Homo sapiens: one gene and its partner. The protein of the gene in region 2 binds, or shares a complex with, the protein of the main gene of each other region. Links are inferred from orthologs where the notes say so. Each region holds a gene or a part of one and is shown on either strand. Other genes may lie near its edges.

Evidence for each region.
Region 1: the proteins of RIMS2 (region 2) and UNC13A are in contact, whole or in part, in a crystal structure (PDB 2CJS), measured with the Rattus norvegicus proteins. The link is inferred for Homo sapiens from one-to-one orthologs. Residues at the interface, in XP_063118965.1 of Rattus norvegicus: Asp102, Gly103, Cys104, Ser109, Gln112, Val123, Leu125, Ser127, Asn128, Lys129, Val134, Met135, Trp136; in NP_074052.2 of Rattus norvegicus: Tyr23, Ile36, Trp65, Leu69, Ile70, Trp71, Asp72, Thr73, Met74.

The regions. Positions count from the first base shown.
Region 1 is NC_000019.10:17,684,901-17,692,912, reverse strand, and holds the start of UNC13A (protein unc-13 homolog A), read left to right. Parts: upstream 1-4,558; 5' UTR 4,559-4,713; coding exon 4,714-4,735; intron 4,736-8,012. UniProt on the Homo sapiens protein: Plays a role in vesicle maturation during exocytosis as a target of the diacylglycerol second messenger pathway.
Region 2 is NC_000008.11:103,881,319-103,888,801, reverse strand, and holds part of RIMS2 (regulating synaptic membrane exocytosis protein 2), read right to left. Parts: intron 3,505-7,483; coding exon 2,579-3,504; intron 1-2,578. UniProt on the Homo sapiens protein: Rab effector involved in exocytosis. May act as scaffold protein. Plays a role in dendrite formation by melanocytes.

The DNA.
Region 1 (8,012 bases), on a different chromosome or scaffold from region 2:
GTAATCACATAAAAAGTTCAACGTCAAGAGCAATCAGAAAGCAAACCAAAACCCAAATGAGGCACTCCTTCCCTCCCTCCACATAGGCCCAGTGAAAAAACTTGGACAATTCAAAGTGTTGGCAAGAACTTAGAGCCAGGCACGGTACCTCATGCCTGGAATTCCAGCACTTTGGCAGGCCGAGGCAGGAGGATCACTGGAGCTCAGGAGTTTGAGAACAGCTTGGGCAACATAGGGAGACCCCATCTAAAAAAAATAAAATGAGCCAGGCATGGTAGCACAGGCTTGTAGTCCCAGCTCCTTGGGAAGCTGAGACAGGAGGATCGCTTGAGCCCAGGAGGTGGAGACTGCAGTGAGCTGTGATTGCACCATTGCACTCCAGCCTGGGCCTCAGAGTGAGACTATCTCAAGAAAAAACAAAAACCAATAACAAAACAAAAACAAAACATAGAGGAACCGATGATTATACTGTGTTGGTATGATGAAAATCGCCAGACTCCCAATAAAAAACATGACATTATCAGGTGAAGCTGAGCATATATGTATTTTCTTTTCTTTCTTTCCCTCCTTTTTTTTTTTTTTTTTTGAGACAGAGTCTTGCTCTGTTTCCAGGCTAGAGTGCAGTGGCGTGATATCGGCTCACTGCAACTTCCGCCTCCTGGATTCAAGCAATTCTCCTGCCTCAGCCTCCTGAGTAGCTGGGACTACAGGGGTGTGCCATAATGCCTGGCTATTTTTGTGTGTGTTTTTAGTAGAGACAGGGTTTCACCATGTTGGCCAGGATGGTCTCGATCTCTTGACCTCATGATCTGCCCATCTCAGCCTCCCAAAATGCTGGGATTACAGGCATGAACCACCATGTCTGGCCACATATATGTATTTTCTGACCCAGCCATCCTTACTCATGTGTGCCAGCACACAAGTCTGAAGTCTGAGGATGGTCATAAAAACTTTTTTTTGTAATAAACCTGAGCTTGAAACAACCCAAAAGTCCATGACCTGGAGAACAGATGAATAGCCAATAGAAGATTCATACAAAGGAATACTATGCAGCAGTAAAAAATGCAAGCCTTACAGCCACATGCAGCGATATGGATGAATATCAGCAGAATCACATTGAGCAAACAAAACAGATTAGCAGTCCAGGTGCTGTGGCTCACACCTGTAATCCCAGCACTTTGGGAGGCTGAGGTGGGTGGATCACCTGAGGTCAGGAGTTTGAGACCAGCCTGGCCAACATGGTGAAACCCTGTCTCTACTAAAAATACAAAAATTATCACTGCAACCTCCATGGCCAGGCATAGTGGCTCATGCCTGTAATCCCAGCATTTTGGGAGGCCGAGATGGGCAGATCACCTGAGGTCAGGAGTTCGAGACCAGCCTGACCAACATGGAGAAACCCCGTCTCTACTAAAAATTACAAAAAAATTAGCTGGGCATGGTGGCACATGCCTGTAATCCCAGCTACTCAGGAGGCTGAGGCAGGAGAATTGCTTGAACCTGGGAGGCGGAGGTTGCGGTGAGCTGAGATCGTGCCATTGCACTCCAGCTTGGGCAACAAGAGCAAAACTCTGTCTCAAAAAAAAAAAAAAAAAAAAAAAAAAAAAAAAAGCCAGGCAAGGTGATGGGCGCCTGTAATCCCAGCTACTCGGGAGGCTGAGGTAGGAGAATCGCTTGAACCTGGGAGGCAGAGATTGCAGTGAGCGGAGATTGTGCCACTGCACTCCAGCCTGGGTGACAGAGTGCAGCTCTGTTTCAAAAAACAAACAAACAAACAGATTAGTAAAGAATGTGAACAAAGTCAAATGAGGTGGCTCATGCCTGTAATTTCAGCACTTTGGGAGTCCAAGGCAGGCAGATTGTTTGAACCCCAGAGTTCAAGACAAGCCTGGGCAACATAGTGAGACCCTCATCTCTAATTAGCCAGGCATGGAGGTGCATGCCTGTTGTTCCAGGTACTTGGGAGGCTGAGACAGGAGGATTGTCTGAGCTCAGGAGCTCACACCACTGTACTACAGCCTGGGTGACACAATGAGACCTTGTCTCAAAAAAATAGAAACATGCAAGAGGTAACCATGTATTGTTTGCTAAGGAGCATGTGGTAAACTATAAGGAAAAGGAAGAAAATGAAAAACAAAATTTGTGATAGTTCTTCCATCTGCAGGGAAGGATTATGAGATTGGGGAGAGGCACATGGGGGTCTTTTATTGTGATGGTATTTTTTTTTTTTTTTGAGACGGAGTCTCTCTCTGTCACCCAGGCTGGAGTACAGTGGCCCGATCTCGGCTCACTGCAAGCTCCGCCTCCCGGATTCACGCCTTTCTCCTGCCTCAGCCTCCTGAGTAGCTGGGAATACAGGCGCCCGCCACCACGCCCGGCTAATTTTTTGTATTTTTAGTAGAGACGGGTTTTACCGTGTTAGCCAGGATGGTCTCGATCTCCTGACCTTGTGATCACCCCGCCTCAGCCTCCCAAAGTGCTGGTATTATAGGCGTGAGCCACCGAGCCCGGTCGATGGTAATTTTTTTTATCCAAGCCTGCTCCTCATAGTTTATCTACTCATTGATGTTTAATAAAACATCAATGTTTTATTGATTATCAATGTTTAATAAAACATCTACTCATTGATGTTTAATAAAAATTTAAGACCAGGCATGGTGGCTCATGAGCCTGTAATCCCAACATTTTGGGAGGCTGAGACGGGAGGATCACTTGAGCCCAGGAGTTTGAGACAGCCTGTGCGACATGGTGAAACTCTGTCTCTACAAAAAATACAAAAATTAGCTGTGCTGATTTTTTTAAAAATTTAAAGCAGTGACAGATACAAACATGGTTACTATTAGGCATTAAGATTACAACTGGGGCCAGGCGCGGTGGCTCATTCGTGTAATCCCAGCATTTTGGGAGGCCACGGTGGGTGGATCACTTGAGGTCAGGAGTTTGAGACCAGCCTGGCCAACATGGTGAAACCCCATCTCTACAAAAAATACAAAAAAATTAGCTGGATGTGGTGGCGAGCGCCTGTAATCCCAGCTACTCAGGAGGCTGAGGCAGGAAGATCACTTGGAGGTTGAGGTTGCAGTGAACTGAGATGGTGCCACTGCACTCCAGCCTGGGCCACAGATTGAGACTACACCTCCAAAAAAAAAAAAATTACAACTGGTTTCACATGTTAACTCATGTAATACCTCCAGCAACCTTGTGAGGCAGGACTTGTTATCATATTCATTCTACAGGTGCGGAAACTGAGGCACGAGGAGGTCACAAGACCTGCCCAAGGCCATGCTTGTGATGAGAGACAGAGTTTGGTTTTGAACAATGGCCTCACTCAACTCCATGCACATTCTGCATTTATGAAGCTCTTTCATGTGGGCTGGGGGCAGGAGACCCTGTGGGGCTCAGCCTTTCATGCTAGTTTAGGTGCCAGTGATACAGCGAGCAGGTTGCAGGGCAAGGGGCCCACATGGAGCTGCCCAGTTTGATATGTGGGGAGGGGGCCAGGCGCAGTGGCTCAGGTCTGAATCCCAGCACTTTGGGAGGCCGAGATGGGCGGATCCCCTGAGGTCAAGTGTTCAAGACCAGGCTGGCCAACATGGTGAAACCTCGTCTCTACTAAAAATAAAAAAAATAAAATAAAAAAAAAAAGCTGGGCATGGTGGCATGCGCCTGTAGTCCCAGCTACTCGGGGAGGCTGAGGCAGGAGAATCTCTTGATCCCAGGAGGCAGAGGTTGCAGTGAGCCAAGATTGCGTCACTGCATTCCAGCCTGGGCTGCAGAGGGAGACTCCATCTAAAAAAAAGAAAAGTGGGGAGGAGTGGCAGAGTTTCGTTCGGGTCAGGGCCCAATCAGAGGAAGGGATAGGGGCTGGGGGAGTCCAGAGAGGAGAAACAAAGGCTCAGCTTGGGGCAGTCAGGGAAGCCTTCCTGGAGGAGAGGATATTCAGACAAGACATTGATGGATGAAAAGGAGTTCAGAGTGTGGGCAAGGACCCATGGGCTGGATGGCTTAGAGACATAGAGAGAGACCTAGACAGGATGCAGTAGAGCTGCAAAAAGACTTTACAGAGAGAGGCTAAGAGACACATGACTGAGAGAGCAGTGGACAGAGTCAGAGGAACAGAGACCCAGGGAGAGAAAGAGACCAGGCAGTAGAGTTAGAGAGACAGAGACGTAGAGACAGAGGAAGAGAGATACTCAGAGAACAGGACCATCTGCCCGGTGCTGGTGCCGGGCGTACACACAAGAGCTTGCATTTGCCTGTACTTGCTTGAGTATTGCAGGGAGGCGTTTGCCCAGGTTACCAGGGCAGGAATGTCCATGCATGGGTGGCGGGGGCACGTGCACCATTTCAGTGCAGGTGAGGGTCTGCACAGGAGGAAACCTGCTTGGGGGCCGCCGTCGCCCCTTGTCCCCCTGCAACGAGGAGGTGTGGGGCGAGGCGCCCCTTCCCGGAGCCAGGCCCTTTAACGCCCCCCCAGCCCGCAGCGCCCCCGCCCCATCAGGCGTCCCTGGGCTCCGCCTGCCCGCCCCGCATCAGCGCCACGTCAGGCGCTGTCCGCGCCCCCGGTGCTGAACCAAGATGGCCGGTGGCGGCCGGGCCCCGGCGTGAGCCAAGCGCGGGCTGCAGCCGGGAGATGCCCCAGCCCAGCGGCCGCTGAGCCCGACCCGACAGAGCCGGCCCGGCCGCCTCCGGCCCACCTGCGAGCTCGGAGACATGTCTCTGCTTTGCGTTGGAGGTAGGAGGCGAGGCTGGGGGTCGGGGGACCCGTGTGGACGCGGGCTGGGGTCGGGGTCCGCGTGGATGCGGCTCCCAGGGGGTTCCTGGGGGGTGACCCGAGTCCAGGTGGCTGGACTTTTGAGAGGGGTAGCCCTTGTCGACGCAGCTGGGCCCCGGAGGGGGTGATCCGTGTAGACGCGGCAGGGCTCTCGGGGGTCCTGGTGGCCGCTGCTGGAGGGGTCGTGTGGACGCGGCTGAACGCGGAGGCCCGTGTGGACGTGGACGGGTATCCGGGGTTCTACCCGGAAACGATCTAGACTGGGGCGTCTGTGTAGACCAGGTTTTTAGAGGGTCAGTGAGGAAGAGTCTGGGCTCGGTAGTTTGATTGAAGCCTGCAGGGGTGCTTGGAAGGGGTCTGGTGTTGTGGGCTGGGTTACGGGTCCTCATGGACGCGGACCCGGCTGGAAATTCGAAGGAGAGTGCGGTGGGAGGGTTCTCCAAGCCGTGGGGATGTAAGATATAGGTAGAGGGGCTTGGCCATCAGGGCATCCACGAGTTCTAGGACTCTCCCAGCCCTAGGTGTAAAGAGGACTGGAGTGGGGGGAGTGTGGAGACAGGAGACCCCTCCCAGCGTCCAGAGAGGGCTGTGACTGGAGGTCTGGGGGCGCTTTTCCAGTTAACTCTTTGGCCTCCCGAGTGAGGGGGTTGGAGGAATGTCCAGAAGGTCTTCCCGCTCCCTGCCCCCTCCGGTTCTCCCAAACACGTTTCAGGGCCTTCTCGGCAGGGAGCCTACTTCTTGGAAGAGCAATGTCTCCTGGTCCCCCTCCTGGCCCATCCTCACCTCACCCACTTTGCACTGGAGAGAGGGAGGGAGGGAGACGTGAGGTGGGGGGGGAGCTATTTTGGGGCCAGAACGCCATCTGCACAGAGGCCCACGCCCAGGCCCACGCTCTGCGTTGGGGTTGGAGGAGGGAGGGAGACGTGGGAGGGGCATGACCCCCCACCCCACACCTTTATGGCTCTGGGGTCGTGGGGAAGCCAGCCCAACCGAACCCAGGCGTTCTGGGCACTCCCGTTTGAGAAATCAAACTCTGGGAGACCTTGGGCGGCAGGGGTGGATGTGGACCGCCGTTCCACGCCTACAGAGCTCTGAACCCCTGGTTCTTAAGGACTGGGGTCCCCCCGTCACTCCCACCCATTTCAAGAAGGCTGGGGTGGGGGAAGGGGTGTGTCTGCCAAGCCTGAGACTGCAGGCTTCGGGAGACCTCGGGCGACAGGAAGCGTGCGTGTGCTGAACTCCTGCTGCCTGGACACAGGGTGGGCAGGCCGGGGAGCCGGGAACCGCCCCCGCCGCCCCTCCTCCTCCCTCCCCTCCCCCTCGGCCGATTCATTCACAAACCCTGCCCCGCCCGCCCGCTCCCCGCCGCGGCAGCTTCCGAGTGCAAATCCGGCCGGGCTGGGCCGGCGTGGACGCGGGTGTTCTTAAAGGGACAGGGGCCTACTTTCTCTAAGCTCGTTTCTGCTGGACGGGGCTGGGGGTGGTGGAAGAAGGGTCCCTAGAGTCAAAGGTCAACTCCTCCATCCCCTAGCCTCCAGGCCTATGGAGTTAGGGGAGTAGGGAAGTGAAGGAGACCCCTAGGCGACCCCCACCGCCTAGGCCTGAGGACGGAATGGGAGGAGAACTTGAATGTCCAGACCCCCTACTGACCTCTCCCCCTGCTCTAAGTAGCCGGGCTCTTAAAGGTGGCACTGGAGGAGGTTCCGACGTGGGTGTTCTTGGCTGACTCCTCTATCCTCTCTCTTCTCCCCCCAGCATCCCGCCCCACCCCGCCTCACATCCTCCAAGTTGGGCTTCTCTGGAAGGTTTGCCTAGTGGAGTGGGGGGGGGGGGGGGGGGGCGGGGATCTCACCCTTAACTCTGACGCAAACAGGAGGCTCGGCTGCGGGGGTGGCATTAAGGGGGGGCAGCAGGAGGCAAGAGGGATGAGGCTTCCAGAAACAGAGACGTTGGGGGAGGACTGTGCTGGATTCTGTGGACTTTACAGGGAGGGGCCCGGCTGAGTGGAGAGGAATCGCTGGGAGGGGCAAGGCTGGGGAAGAGGTTGACAGGGGTGGGAGGTAAGGCCCTCAGGTGTAAAGGGAGGTGTGAGGTTGGAGTGAGGAGGAGTAGGAGGCAGGGAGGGGTGGGGAGAGGGAGAAGTGCTGGGTGAGGCCAGTCTCCCAGGGAGAGGTGGGATGGTGCCCAGAGAGGGGAGGGGCTGGGATGGCTGAGCACGAGAGATGTTGGGGTGGGCTTGGCAGGAGTGAAGCTAGGCTGAGATGGGTTGCCGTGTTGCCTGAGCTCAGCTGAGGAAATACCTGTCCCCCCTCCCCTCCACCGGGGACCCACAGGCGTTTGCCAATCCCTACACACATTCATACCCAGACTTGTTCCTGTGTGGACACAAATGCTTAGGATGTATGAAGGCTCTACGCAGACCATGTGCCTGGGAAGGCACATTCCGTAGGCACACGTGTGTACTCAAATGCCTGTGTGAACACAAGCATACACGTGTATATAGGACACAGTCTGCCGCTACAGATATAGTCCCAGCAACACACGTGTGAGTGTGTGTGTCTGCCAGCACGCATATAGATGTATCCACGTGTCTGATGAATGCTCACAATATACATGTCACATAAAGATCCACCCATGTCCAGCCGAGCGCGGTGGCTCAGGCCTGTAATCTCATCACTTTGACTTTGGGAGGCCAAGGTGGGCAGATCACTTGAGGTCAGGAGTTCAAGACCAGCCTGGCCAACATGGTGAAACTTTGTCACTGCTAAAAAATAAAAAAAATTAGCCAGGTGTGGTGGCGCGCACCTGTAGTCTCAGCTACTCGGGAGGCTGAGGAAGGAGAATCACTTGAATAGGGGAGGTGGAGGTTGCAGTGAGCTGAGATCCTGCCACTGTACTCCAGCCTGGGCAACACAGTGAGACTCTGTCTCAAAAAAAAAGATTCACTCATGTCCTAACACTCAGACATGTACCCATACATATCTGTTAAGGTCCCCAACCCCATGAAGCACATATATATTCATATAAGCACATGTCAAAGCCATGTGTGTATGCACATGACAACACTTGCCTGGACATTCAAAGCAGCCCCTTTCAACAAGTGGATGATGATGCATACAAGTAAATACACATTTGAGTATTTCATTGCACACAAGTGCATACATGTATGCAGATAAACAAATACAGCTGCCACAGAACTGCATCCATGTACACATGCAAACATCAATATGTGTGTTTT
Region 2 (7,483 bases):
AAGTGAAAGCCATTTTTTTCTATATTTGATAAATGTTTTAGTTTTGCTAATTTGTTTCAAATAGGATTTTAATTTAACTCATATATACCTTTTTACTTATATGAGACTTTTATAAGTGGATACTTCAGAATACTAAAATAAAGATATCACATATAAAAAAGCTTTCAAGCACTGAATTGATACATTTCTGAGTTTTTTACATTTTTATGTGGTACAAGTGAAGGCATTACTTTAGCAAAGGATAATAGAAATACCTACCAGATAGAATCTAAACCAAACCACCAAAGATAACAAAACTATCTTTTTTCTTATTTTTTAGTATCATGATATACTCTGGCAAATGTGAAAAATGACCAAACTAAAGATTATTAAATATACTTAAGGAAGTACTACAGCTTAGGGAAAATAAAATCTCTATATACTCCATAAAAAAAATAATTAAGATCGATAGTTGCTCTTTATAGATAACTATATTTTAATAAGCAAGTTTTTCTTAGTATTTATCATTTGAATGCAACAAATATGAAATATCCCTAATGTGATTTTTTAAAACTTCATATGCATTTCCCCAACCCTATTTGTTGAATAGTTTATCTCTCCCCACTTGGATTGTTGTGCATTTTATATTTTATCATTTATTAGTTTTAATATATTATATTAGAATTTCACCGATATGTCCAAATTTTCTATCAGTATCACATTTTCAATTATTGTCATTTTATACTATCTGGTCAAGTGAGTTCTCCCTCACTACTCTTAATTATTCTTACAAGTGTTGTTTCTTCCAGACTAACTTTAGAAATAAAATACTTCAAGGGTCCAACTGGTATTATGTCTAGAATGTTATTAACTCCAAGAGATTATCTGCAAAGAGCTTGCATCTTTATACTACTTAGCCTTCCTAATTAGGAACATGAAATGAACCGCTACTCACATCTTCCTTATGTTACTCAGTAAAATTTTATGGCTCTTCCTGTGGGCCCCTCATTTCTTGTTAGTTATTTTTATATCACATTTTTTATTTTTAATTCAGAATGGAAACAATTAATGTGTTCTAACTAATTATTTTGGTACAGTATAAAATGATTCCATAATCATTTCATACCTAGCTCCTTTCTTGAATTCCCTTAGTGATTCCTGTTGATTCGATAAACAAAAAATGGACTATTCATCAAATAGTATAAGGAAATTGGGGGTAGGAGGTTGGTATGATACTCATCCATCTGGTATATTTTTGTCATACACCAAAATAAATTCCAGAATGTTAAAAAAGTTAATGGTTAAAAATAATTTAAAAATGAGATAATATACAGTTAAATACTTAATTGATTTGGAAGCGAATAAAGAGCTTTTAAAGATGAAAATAATGGAAAAAAATCACCAAATACAAAGGTTTAGATACATTAAATTCAACAGTTTCAAATAAACAAATTAAAATACTAGATAAACATTAAAATGAGAAATGTATTTGGCAAATAATAGTTAAATGGGGTAAAATCCTAACTATATAAAAAGTGCTTATAAATCAATAATAGAAAAACTAATACCCAGAGAAAGATGGGCAGAAGGAATTAAAGGAATGAACAGATAATTCACAGAAGATATCAAATGCAGATAAACATATAAAACATTCAACTTTACAATCAAATTCAAATTAAAATGACAAAGAGAGCATTTTTGTGGCTATTCAATTGGCAAAGATTTGGTGAATTGAGACTGAAAACTCAAGTACATCTGATAAGAGTAAAGCATGTTACAACCTTTTTGGAAAGCAATTTGGTAATCTGAATTAAAGCTTAAAATAATCCAAAGTACAAATATATATTTTTGAAATACTCAAGAGATGTAGGCAAAAAGTATGTATAAAGATAACCATTATAATTTTTACATTGGCAAATGGAAGCCACAGCAATGCCCCAAATAAAGAAATATTTAGTTGTGGTATAATCTTATGATAGAATATTAGTGTAGCTATTTAAAACGTATTACTAAAGAACATCTAATGGCTTGAAAAAAATCATTTATGATGTGATAACAATTGAAAGCATCAGTATACAAAATTATATATAGCATGATATCAATTTTATAAATCTATAAACCATACATGCATAGGAAAAAAAAGAAAGAAAATACAATAAAAGGTTAACAATGGTTATATCTGGGGGAAGAAATATGGATAACTTGCATTTCATTCTTTATGCTTTGAGGACTTTTTCAGATGTTTTATAGTGAATATATTGTTACTTTTATAAGGAGACAAAAAATAAATGTTATTTTAAAAACTACAGTTAATGGATATTTTTGAAATATGCTGTCAAATGATACAAGAAAACTTTCAGAAACAAAGCAAGAAGGCAATTTTTAAAAATCAATAGAACATCATTCTGTCGTTCTTATACATGAACAACAGAAGATACTTTTTATAACACGAAATTTTCTTCACACGTTCGATGCCATTAAAAGACTTTTAAAATAAAGCTACTAGTAATACCTATTAAATTTTCACTCAGAAATGCAATCTATTAAAAAAAACGCTTATCTAATCAATTACAGCAAAATGTATGATTAGAAAGCTTACCTTTTTCACTTACACTCTCACTTTCAATCTCAACATCATCACAACTTGTATATTCAGGCGTGGAAGCCAATTCCTCCTCTGAACTGCTCAACGAAATCTGGCGCATTTTACCGCCTTTCTTTGATTTATGAGGCTTTGGTGGTGGAGGTCTCACTGACTCTGACTGGTCTGAACTGAGAGAATCATTCCTTAACATTGTTTCCATTTTTTCCCGTTTTGTTTTTCTTACAGCAGAGCTAGGATCTAAGTGGTGCTGTTTCCGTAGTGAGTCAGTACGCCTCAAGTCTGGTCTATCTATGGGTAGTGGACTCCTCCTGGGGGTAGGAGGACTATGGTTTGTGGTCCTTTGTGCATAAGAACTTGGTCCCTGAGCCTCTCGAGTTCTTTCCATTGAATAAGATCGCTGATTTTCCATGGCAGCTCTACGTTCTGATATAGATCTTTGCCTTGATGGTCGATCCATCCTTAGCATAGAAATCCTGGAATCTTCCAGATCAGCATTTGCCAAAGAAACATCACTATGCCTTCTCTCATGCCGTGCTCGGGACACTTCAGCATGGATCCGCATTTGTTCTTCATAGGGTTGTGGCTTTACTGGATAACGGGCCAAATTCGGATCACTTCGGTAGCGTGACTGGTACTCTTCCTCTCTCCTTTGCCTTTCGTATTCATCTCTGCTTTCCACATCCTCATCATCTACAATATATTCTTTGGAATGCCTATGACTTCTCCTGTTGGAGTCCCTATAACTTAAATGATCAGAGTCTTCATAAAACTGAGGTTCATGTTGAGATCGCCTATCAGCATAATCTGATGGAGATCTAGGCATTGCGGTATCCGAAGTAGCATACTGTGAATATTCCTCTCTTTCTTCCCTTTGGTCGTATCTTCTATTCTGATCTCTGGACACAGATGGGCTTCTTTTCCTAAGTAACCAAAGGAAAAGAACAATGAGAAGAGCAAAAGTTTATCAATTTTACATTTCATTGATTTGCTGGCAGGTTGATGGATAACTAAGTAGTCCTTTTGCCTTTTTAAAATTTCATTTTAAAGGCATAGCGTAACAATGGTTTTAGTAGTATTCATTATATTCAGTTCAAATAAGTACTTTGTTGTGGTTATTAAGTGCCTGCAACACTATATCTGGAATATGCTTATGCTTGAAAATTAGATAATATGATATTCCACTGCTATAAACTAGCATTTATTCTAATTTCCTTGCTTGGTTTGCTACGTACACTTCCACTACCCACCAACTATTATTCAGCAGCTTAGAAAAATATTTCCTCCATCTTCTCTATACCTAACATGCTGATATGAAAGTTACCTGAAAATGTAATGAAGCCAAACTGATTTGGCTCAAGAGTTGAATACTTTCTGACTAAAATTAAGTGCTGGCTCTTAAAAATCATTTTTCATTCATCATCTTCTAGATCATTCCTAGTATTGGTTCACCTAAATTTTCATTTTATCATCATGTCTCCAACCCTTTTTTATTGATCTAACTTGAGATAAGCAATAAAAATAGACAAATAATAATGATTTATTCATTACAAAAATCCTAGAAATCAGAAAAAACTGCTATTTTTATTCCATCTTCATTTAGATTAAGAACAGCTTGGTGATATTATTCTACTAAGTCTCCACATCTGACCCCTCATATTTCCTTATAGTCTCAGAGGAAGAAACTGCTTATTACCTTCTCAACTTACCCTTCTAACACTGGTAAAACCTAGTGAACCTTGCAATAAGACATGATACCCTGTTAACAAAATATTCACACTAACCTTTTCTCTGGAATAAACTTAGATAATATCAACTATTAATCATGAAAAGCAATAGGATTAGAATCCTGAAGATAACAGAAAAGGTTTAGAAAACTATTATGGGGATTTTGCCAGGACATGAACAGGAGACAATGAAAGAGTGAAGTCAGCTGAAGTTAAAGATGACTAAGATTCAACAGTTCAGTTGTGAATTTCTTAGTCAATGGTTTCTTAGCCCAAAAGCAAGAGCAGATAAAGGATACAGTAGAATGACCCAACCTGGCAAAATCAGCACTCTTCTCTAATATCTCCCCCGGGTCACAGAATCCCTTTTCCCCTCATATTTGGAACACAGTCTGCCAATCTACCAATTAGGTTCACTAACGAAAACAGAAGTTAGTCTAGGTTTTCCAGGTAGGAAGGGTTTTAATTCAGGAACCAGAAGCTACATAACAGTTGAATGGGCGACAGGAATAAAGGCCAAGAAAGTTAATGCTGATGATCTTAGCCTGAAGATGCAAAGACAAGGGTTCTCAAAATGGACACTAGAAAGCTGCTGTGAATGTCAGGAGTCTATGGAAATCTGCCAGCAATTACCTGTACCACCTACAGCATCAGGGTGGCCAATTAACAGGAGTTTGCCCAGGAGCCACTAAGACTTTTATATCTGCCCATCTGCTAGCCAACAACTAATGCTTGACAATAATGGCTTCTGTATATCCTCTACCTTTCAAATCTCATGTAAGTACAAAGCCAGGATAAACTCTAACCTGGAACTATAAAGGAATAAGTACTGTAGAAAGTGAAAAAATTAGTCTATCCCTTAAATGTTTTATAATTAAGAAAGTGGATGTGATATTTTTTAGCATTTACATTTATATATGAAACACTTAGGACTTAATTACAAATCTTTTATATTACAATTGTTACATAAAACCATAGATTCCTACAGTTTAAAATTTACAATCAAAACAAAACATTCAAAAAAATTTATAGTACCCAACACCCTATGTTTCTGTGTATATGTGTGTGTGCACTGTGCATCATTCATTTCACTTTTGTCATTACTTTTATACATTTGACTAAAAAAACTCTAGCATGATAGTAGTCTATCATGAAGAGAACACTAGATTTAAGGAATCTACAGTTCTTAGTCATACTTTTGTAATTAGCCAGTTATTTCGAACTATATAACCATTAAATCCTTAGGAGTTTGTGCTTTAAATTGAGAGGCATAGATTTTACATGTTAACTTATATATTACTTTAACAAACATATATTAGGTTAAGAAATAAATGCCACACACTATCTTATAAATTAGGAATGCAGAAATGATTAAGACACCTTCCTTGTTCTTAAGAGGGTGAATGATTCTAAAACCATCTTCCATTTCTTAGGTACTATGATTTTACAATATTGATACCACAACTTCATCAAGTTAATAAGCCTACATGAAAGCTTAATGCATTAAAGATTTCCCATAATACATTTAATGTTAAACTGAGTATTTTAGGATAGAAGTTAAAAAAAGGAATATTTCATTCCTATCTTAAGGAATTAACATGAATTTTTGAAAGTAAGTAGAGTATAAAGTGAATACAATGAGTCTTTATAACAGGGGATTATATTTTATCTTACAGATAAATAAGAATATTTACTTCCTATTATGGAATTCAGTTCCAAGAGAAAGGCTATTAATAATTAGTCACTAGCAAGCCATCTAAGTACTTTTTAAAAATCATACCTTAGGAAAATTGAATTCAATGTTAAATCCAGCAATCACATTGTTCTAGAGATTATCAAATTTGCCAGAAATATGTGAATCATACTGTAGATGTCGATTTGTACTGGATTTAAGATTATAACCACTATAAAAATGGAACAGTGGTTATAATCGGAAATTGGGATGACTACTGTCACTGTTACAAAGACTTAGGTTTTCAAGAATACCCTTTAAGGTATAGTACCTTACAGTATGTTAACACTATGCGAGAAACAAGGCAAGATTTCATTCTAACAATACATGTATCAAACAATGAAGAACCTGCAATCAATTATTTCAAAATAATAAATATTCTATCAAACAATTTTTACCAACTATATTATGAATTACTTCATATATACTGTCCTTTAAATTTTAAACTTCTATATTTCATAGATAGTATATTCCTTTCAGGAACTAAATAAAATCAGTGTAAATTCAAGTAATGTGTTTCTACTGTATATCTTTGCTATTGGCCTTTATAAACAAGCCTTAGCATTTATTATCATCAGGTGGAAAATATTTAATAGATAAAGCAATATCATTGATAATTTGTATATTTCTCTACAGAACCATAAGGCATTTAGCAGTATTTAATTCATCTGTTATAATACAAAGGAAAAGGAACGATTCGTCTAGGATTTTACATTTCACTTAATCCTTCAAAGACCCTGAGAAATTAAGAGGCAGAATCCAAAATTATGCCTTTCTTTAGTATAAAATGTATTTGTGGCATCATATAGTGCCTTAATCTTTACTCCTACGCATTCTATTATCCTTATTTCTGTTATAATATCAGTATATATTTATATTCACTTTATATTTACCTAATATCGATTCACTTCTCTTTATTGCCACCTGTGTTGTTAGAATTGCTTTCTCTTTTGCCAGAGTATTCTGTCCTTAATTAGAACCAGTTTATAGAAAACCACATTTTAAACATCCTAAATCTACTGTAGTAAGTATCATTTCTATTCCTTGCTTACAATTGTTTGTCATGTGGACTATTCAATCTATTTCTAAATATTCTAGCTTGTATAACACATCTGATGCTCCATTATAAATGTTATTCTAACTATGCAAAATAGTTTGCGTAGGAAATCCTACCAATTAGACTCCTTAAATTCTATGTCCAAAAAGCATACTGACTGATGGGAAAACTCCAAAGAAGCTTCTTTCCCAATTAAAATCACTTCCAGATTTCCCAAAGGCATCCAGGGTTTACATGCCATAAATTAATTCATCATGTTTTTACCATAACTTCCATTTTAATATTTACAGGCTTTACCATCTTAAGTGATTTGTGTTACTAATACCAGCTATAATTCTGACCATATTGATAAAAGAATCATCAAATCTCTGAAAATATAGTCTAAT